2 separate regions of the Homo sapiens genome follow, and region 1 is linked to region 2. The links come from fine-mapping of genetic effects on plasma protein levels. Region 2 holds a variant in brackets. A gene starts in the other region. All regions are shown on their forward strands. Region 1 holds the start of C6orf58 (chromosome 6 open reading frame 58). Region 2 overlaps EDA (ectodysplasin A).

What was found. PIP is the posterior inclusion probability: the model's chance that the variant is causal. The UK Biobank Pharma Proteomics Project read protein levels with antibody pairs (Olink). The fine-mapping took linkage between variants from a reference panel, not from the people measured, so its PIPs are less certain.
Region 1: it holds the start of C6orf58, and the variant in region 2 is fine-mapped to the plasma level of the C6orf58 protein (UK Biobank, PIP above 0.99).

Annotation. Positions count from the first base shown.
Region 1 is chr6:127,575,444-127,578,368 of GRCh38, forward strand. C6orf58 (chromosome 6 open reading frame 58) reads left to right here and starts at 1,731. Exons shown (of 6, transcript NM_001010905.3): 1 at 1,731-2,043. The coding sequence starts at 1,743.
Region 2 is chrX:69,855,293-69,858,217 of GRCh38, forward strand. All of the region lies in intron 1 of EDA (ectodysplasin A), which reads left to right. Among named protein-coding and RNA genes, the nearest start is that of MIR676, 170 kb to the right of the region's middle. The variant T/C (reference allele first, on the strand shown) is at 1,702.

The DNA.
Region 1 (2,925 bases), not on the chromosome of region 2:
ATAATTATACATTTATATGTTGGCCCTTTTGTTGACAATAAAATGAGGACTTTTCTTCCATTTTCACCTATTATATTTCCCAATTGCTTTTATATATAAAAGCTATTGATTTATATATAGTAATTTAGTTCTTAACCACTTTAGTAAATTTTTTCTTTGTAGTTACCCTTCTAGTTTATTCTCTTATGTTTTCTGAACACTGTCATATCATCTATAAGGGAAAGTACTAGCACATCTTCATTCTCAATTTTATACCTCTAATTTATTTATCTTTACTAACTTTATTGTTTGGTATCCTCAAAGAAAAGTTAAATGATTATAATGCTGGTGGTCATTTTTATTTTATTTCTGACCTTAAAGGAGTGCTCTTAAGATTTCTCCATTGAGAACAATCTGGCATTTGGTTTTAGAGTAACACATCTTACAGTACATATTCACGTATATATTCTTATAAACATTTAATATACTTTTAAAATTTCCAGAATGATTGCATTCTTGATCTATAGTAGCAATTCCTACCATTCCCTTTTATATTAATATATCTGGAAAATTTATTAATTATCAAATGGCTATTGGGTAAATAATATGACAGGAAAAAAGAGTGGAATCATGCTGTAGGATGTTTAATGTGGACCATGCCAGGAACAAGCAGTACCAGTGACCTACTATGAAGCATATGCATCTAATTGTGTAAATAATTGAGATTTTCAGATGCATTACCTATTAATAAGGCAAGAATTTTTACTATGTGTGAATAAAACTTCAATAACAGTGGTTGAAACAAGAGAGTGGGGTGTTTCTTGCTCAGGTAAAACTCAGATATAGGAATTCAAGGACATCTCATGGCTCCACAGCCCTCTGGGACTCAAGCCACCTCCAGCTTTGCATTCTGTCATCCCTAAGATAGTGCCTTGCGTTTAGGGGTCAGAATTGAATTTCAATCATCACATCAATAATCCAAGCCACAACATGGAGGAAGGGAAGAGGAATTGACATGTGCCCTTCATTTTAGGACATGTTCCAGAAATTGTGGATACTATTTCTATTTATGTCTCTGTGGTCCACACTTAGTCACATGGTTGCTTGTGTAAAGCAAATTGGAAATTTAGCCTTAATTCTGGGAGACCATATTCCCAGCTAAAATTCTACGATTCTTTTACTAATAAAGAATGAAAAATAGATATTAAGAATTAACTAGCAGGTTTTGTTCCAGCAGGCTGACTTTCATTATTGAATTGAGCTAATTAGATATTCTTTAAGCTTCTTTCTTGAAGCAGAACATTGTATTACAACTGGATCACACATATTTTTAGTACACATTTGAAGATTATTATAAATCCTAGTATTTCCATCTCCAGCTATTTAATATTTTCCATGAAATATGTTAAAGTATTTTTATTAGAGGGAAGCATTCTAAAGCCATTTGTGATGTATTTTGTAATCACAATGCAGCCTGGGAAACTTCTGGAAGGTTTTTGTTGATAAATAGTTTTATCTAATACATTATAAACAAGCCTAACCTTGTATTTAGGTTCTGACACAGTATTCTGACGCTGAAGAGTCTGGGAAATTTAATTGTCCTAAATGTTAGCTAATACATCAATTTCTTCTACATTTTCACCCTATCCAGGAAAACAAAAAAGCAAAGTGTTGATATGCTGTGAGGTTAGCAAATATCATGACTTCCTCTTCCATTCTCCAATAAAAGCCCTGCTACGATCGCAATCCCCAGCTCTGGCACAATGGCTTTTCTTCCTTCCTGGGTTTGTGTACTAGTTGGTTCCTTTTCTGCTTCCTTAGCAGGGACTTCCAATCTCTCAGAGACAGAGCCCCCTCTGTGGAAGGAGAGTCCTGGTCAGCTCAGTGACTACAGGGTGGAGAACAGCATGTACATTATTAATCCCTGGGTATACCTTGAGAGAATGGGGATGTATAAAATCATATTGAATCAGACAGCCAGGTATTTTGCAAAATTTGCACCAGATAATGAACAGAATATTTTATGGGGGTTGCCTCTGCAGTATGGCTGGCAATATAGGACAGGTAAGAATGACTCTTGTTTTCATTGTAATGATCTACCGATAGACCTATGAAGTATTTGGGAAATTGGACTCTGTATATACCCTACTATGTTTTTAAAAATTGATTCTTTATCTTGTTCTCTTTTCCCTTATAATCATTGTTTTTCTACCTATCCTTCTCCTTATCCACAAATCCTTCTTTTGTGGGTTGTGTGTTATTATTAGAAGCTTCAATGAGGCATAAGACATAGTTATCAACTGTGAAAAGACATCACATCTCATCTATTGAGCATTTCACAAATATTTGTTGAAGTTCTACTAAGTGCCACACTCCTTTCTAAGCAATGAGATGAACAAAACAGTCAAGGGGATATACAAAGTGATGTCCAATTAGTTTGAATTTCTTGAAGTTCTAATTATGATATGAGGTTATAAAGAAGCATCACATTGTTCATGAAGATCTTTCTCTGTAAAATGTTTGCTTCCTCTTGGAAATAAGGTACCTTACAGTGTATAGACAGAAGTTACATTTTGGGATAAAATATACATGAATTGAAAGATACTTTTGTTCTGGTTGATAGAAGCTCATGAGAAAGAGTGGTGCCTGTTGCCCACTCCCTGCTGATGACACAGCCAATAAAGAAATTATTGTGTGTGAGAGAGAGGTTAAGAAAAGAGCAATTTCATTTGGAAGAAAAACAATGATTATTTTCTAATATTTACATAATGCATATTACAGGTGAAACACCTTTGGTGCTTTTTCTCACCTCACATCACAACCTTATAATGTAGTTAATATTATTATCCCCATGTCATAGATGAGAAAACTAAGGCATTAGAGGTTATTTAGATAAAGTCAAGCTAGTAAGTGGTAGAGCAGGGGTTTGTTTTGACTCTCGACCAT
Region 2 (2,925 bases):
AAGCTCTTAAGTTTAATTAGATCACATTTGTCAGTTTTTGCTTTTGTTCCAGTTGCTTTTGGAAAGCAAAGATTTCTTCGTTGTGAAATCTTTGCCTGTTTCTATGTCTTGAATGATATCACCTAAGTTTTCTTCCAGGGTTTGTGTAGTTTTGGGTTTTACATTTAAGTCTTTAATCCATCTTTAATTAATTTTTCTATATAGTATAAGGAAGGAGTCCAGTTTCAATCTTCTGCATATGGCTAGACAGTATTCCCAGCACCATTTATTGAATAAGGAGTCTTTTTTCCATTGCTTATTTTTGTCAGGTTTGTGGAAGACCAGATGGTTGTAGGTGTGCGGCCTTATTTCTGGGTTCTCTATTCTGTTCCATTGGTCTACATGTCTGTACTTATACCAGTACCATGCTATTTTGCTTGCTGTAGCCCCATAGTATAGTTTGAAGTCAGATAGCATGTTACCTGCAGCTTTGTTCTTTTTGCTTAAGATTGTCTTGTATATTCGGGGTCTTTTCTGGTTCTATCTGAATTTTAAAATAGTTTTTTTCTAGTTCTGTGAAGAATCTCAATGGTAGTTTATTTTTTTGCTCAGCATTTTATTTATTTTTTATTTATTTCAATAGGTTTTTGGGGAACAGGTGATGTTTGGTTACGTGGATAAGTCCTTTAGTGATGATTTCTGAGATTTTGGTGCACCCATCACCCAAGCAGTATACACTGCACCTTATTTGTAGTCTTTTATCCCTCACCCCTCTCCCACACTTCCCCTCAAGTCCCCAAAGTCCATTGTATCATTCATGTCTTTGCATCCTCATAGCTTAGCTCTCACTTATAAGTGAGAATATACAATGTTTGATTTTCCACTCCTGAGTTACTTCACTTAGAATGATGGTCTCCAACTCCATCCAGGTTGCTGCAAATGCCATTATTTCATTCCTTTTTATGGCTGAGTAGTATTCCATGGTGTGTGTGTGTGTGTGTGTGTGTGTGTGTGTGTGTGTGTGTGTTGCAAATTCTGCTGCTATAAACATGCATGTGTAAGGTTTTTTTTTTCATATAATGTCTTATTTTCCTCGAGGTAGATACCCAGTAGTGGGATTGCTGTATCAAATGGTAGATCTACTTTTAGTTCTTTAAGGAAACTCTATACTCTTTTCCATAAAGGTTATACTAATTGACATTCCCACCAGCACTGTAACAGTGTTCCCTTTTCACCACATCCACACCAACATCTGTTATTTTTTGATTTTTTAATTATGGCCATTCTTGTAGTAGTGAGGTGGTATCACCTGGTGGTTTTGATTTGCATTTCCCTGATAATTTGTGATGTTGAGCATTTTTCATATGTTTGTTGGCTGTTTGTATATCTTCTTTTGATAACTGTCTATTCATGTCCTTAGCTTACTTTTTGATGCGATTATTTTTTTTTTTTGGAGGGGGCTGATTTGTTTGAGTTCTTTGTAGCTTCTGGACGTTAGTCCTTTGTCAGATGCATAGTTTGCAAAGATTTTCTCCCACTCTGTGGGTTGTCTGTTTACTCTGCTAACTGTTCCTCTTGCCATCCAAAAGCTCTTTAGTTTAATTAAGTCCCACCTATTTGACTTTGTTTTTGTTGCATTTGCTTTTGGGTTTTTGGTCATGCAGTCTTTGCCTAAGCCAATGTCTAGAAGGGCTTTTCTGATGTTATCTTCTAGAATTTTTA[T/C]AGTTTCAGGTCTTAGGTTTAAGTCCTTGATCCATCTTGAGTTGATTTTTTTGTACGAGGTGGGAGACGAGGATCCAATTTCATTTTCCAACATGTGGCTTGCCAATTATCCCAGAACCGGTTGTTGAACAGGGTGTCATTTCCCTACTCTATGTTTTTCTTTGCTTTGTCGAAGATCAGTTGGCTGTAAGTATTTGGCTTTATTTCTGAGTTCTCTATTCTGTTCCATTAATCTATGTGCCTATTTTTATACCAGCACCATGCTGTTTTGGTGACTGTAGCCTTATAGTTTGAAGTCCCGTATTGTGAGGCCTCCAGATGTGTTCTTTTTGCTTAGTGTTGCTTTGGCTATGCAGGCTCTTTTTTGGTTCCATATGAATTTTAGAATTGTTTTTTCTAGTTCTGTGAAAAATGATGAAGGTATTGTTATGGGAATTGCATTGAATTTGTAGATTGCTTTTGGCAGTATGGTCATTTTCACAATATTGATTCTGTCTATCAGTGAGCATTGGATGTGTTTCCATTTTGGCTATGCGGGCTCTTTTTTGGTTCTATATGAATTTTAGGATTGTTTTTTCTCGTTCTGTGAAAAATGATGAAGGTATTGTTATGGGAATTGCATTGAATTTGTAGATTGCTTTTGGCAGTATGGTCATTTTCACAATATTGATTATATCTATCGATGAGCATTGGATGTGTTTCCATTTTGTCTATGTGGGCTCTTTTTTGGTTCCATATGAATTTTAGGATTGTTTGTTTTATCTAGTTCTGTGAAAAACGATGAAGGTCTTGTTATGGGAATTGCATTGAATTTGTAGATTGCTTTTGGCAGTATGGTCATTTTCACAATATTGATTCTATCTATCGATGAGCACTGGATGTGTTTCTATTTGTTTGTGTACTATGATTTCTTTCAGCAGTGCTTTGTAGTTCTCCTTGTAGAGATCTTTCACCTCCTTGGTTAGCTGTATTCCTAGGTATTTTATTCTTTTGTGGCAATTGTGAATGAGATTGCATTCCTGATTTGGCTCTCAGCTTTCCTGTTGTTGGTGTATAGGAATGCTACTGATTTTTGTACATTGATTCTGTACCCTGGGACTTTGCCTAAGTTGTGTATCAGCTTAAGAAGCTTTTGGGCCAAGACTATAGGGTTTTCTAAATACTGGATCACGTCATCTGCACACAGGGATAGTTTGACTTTCTCTTTACCAATTTGGATGCCCT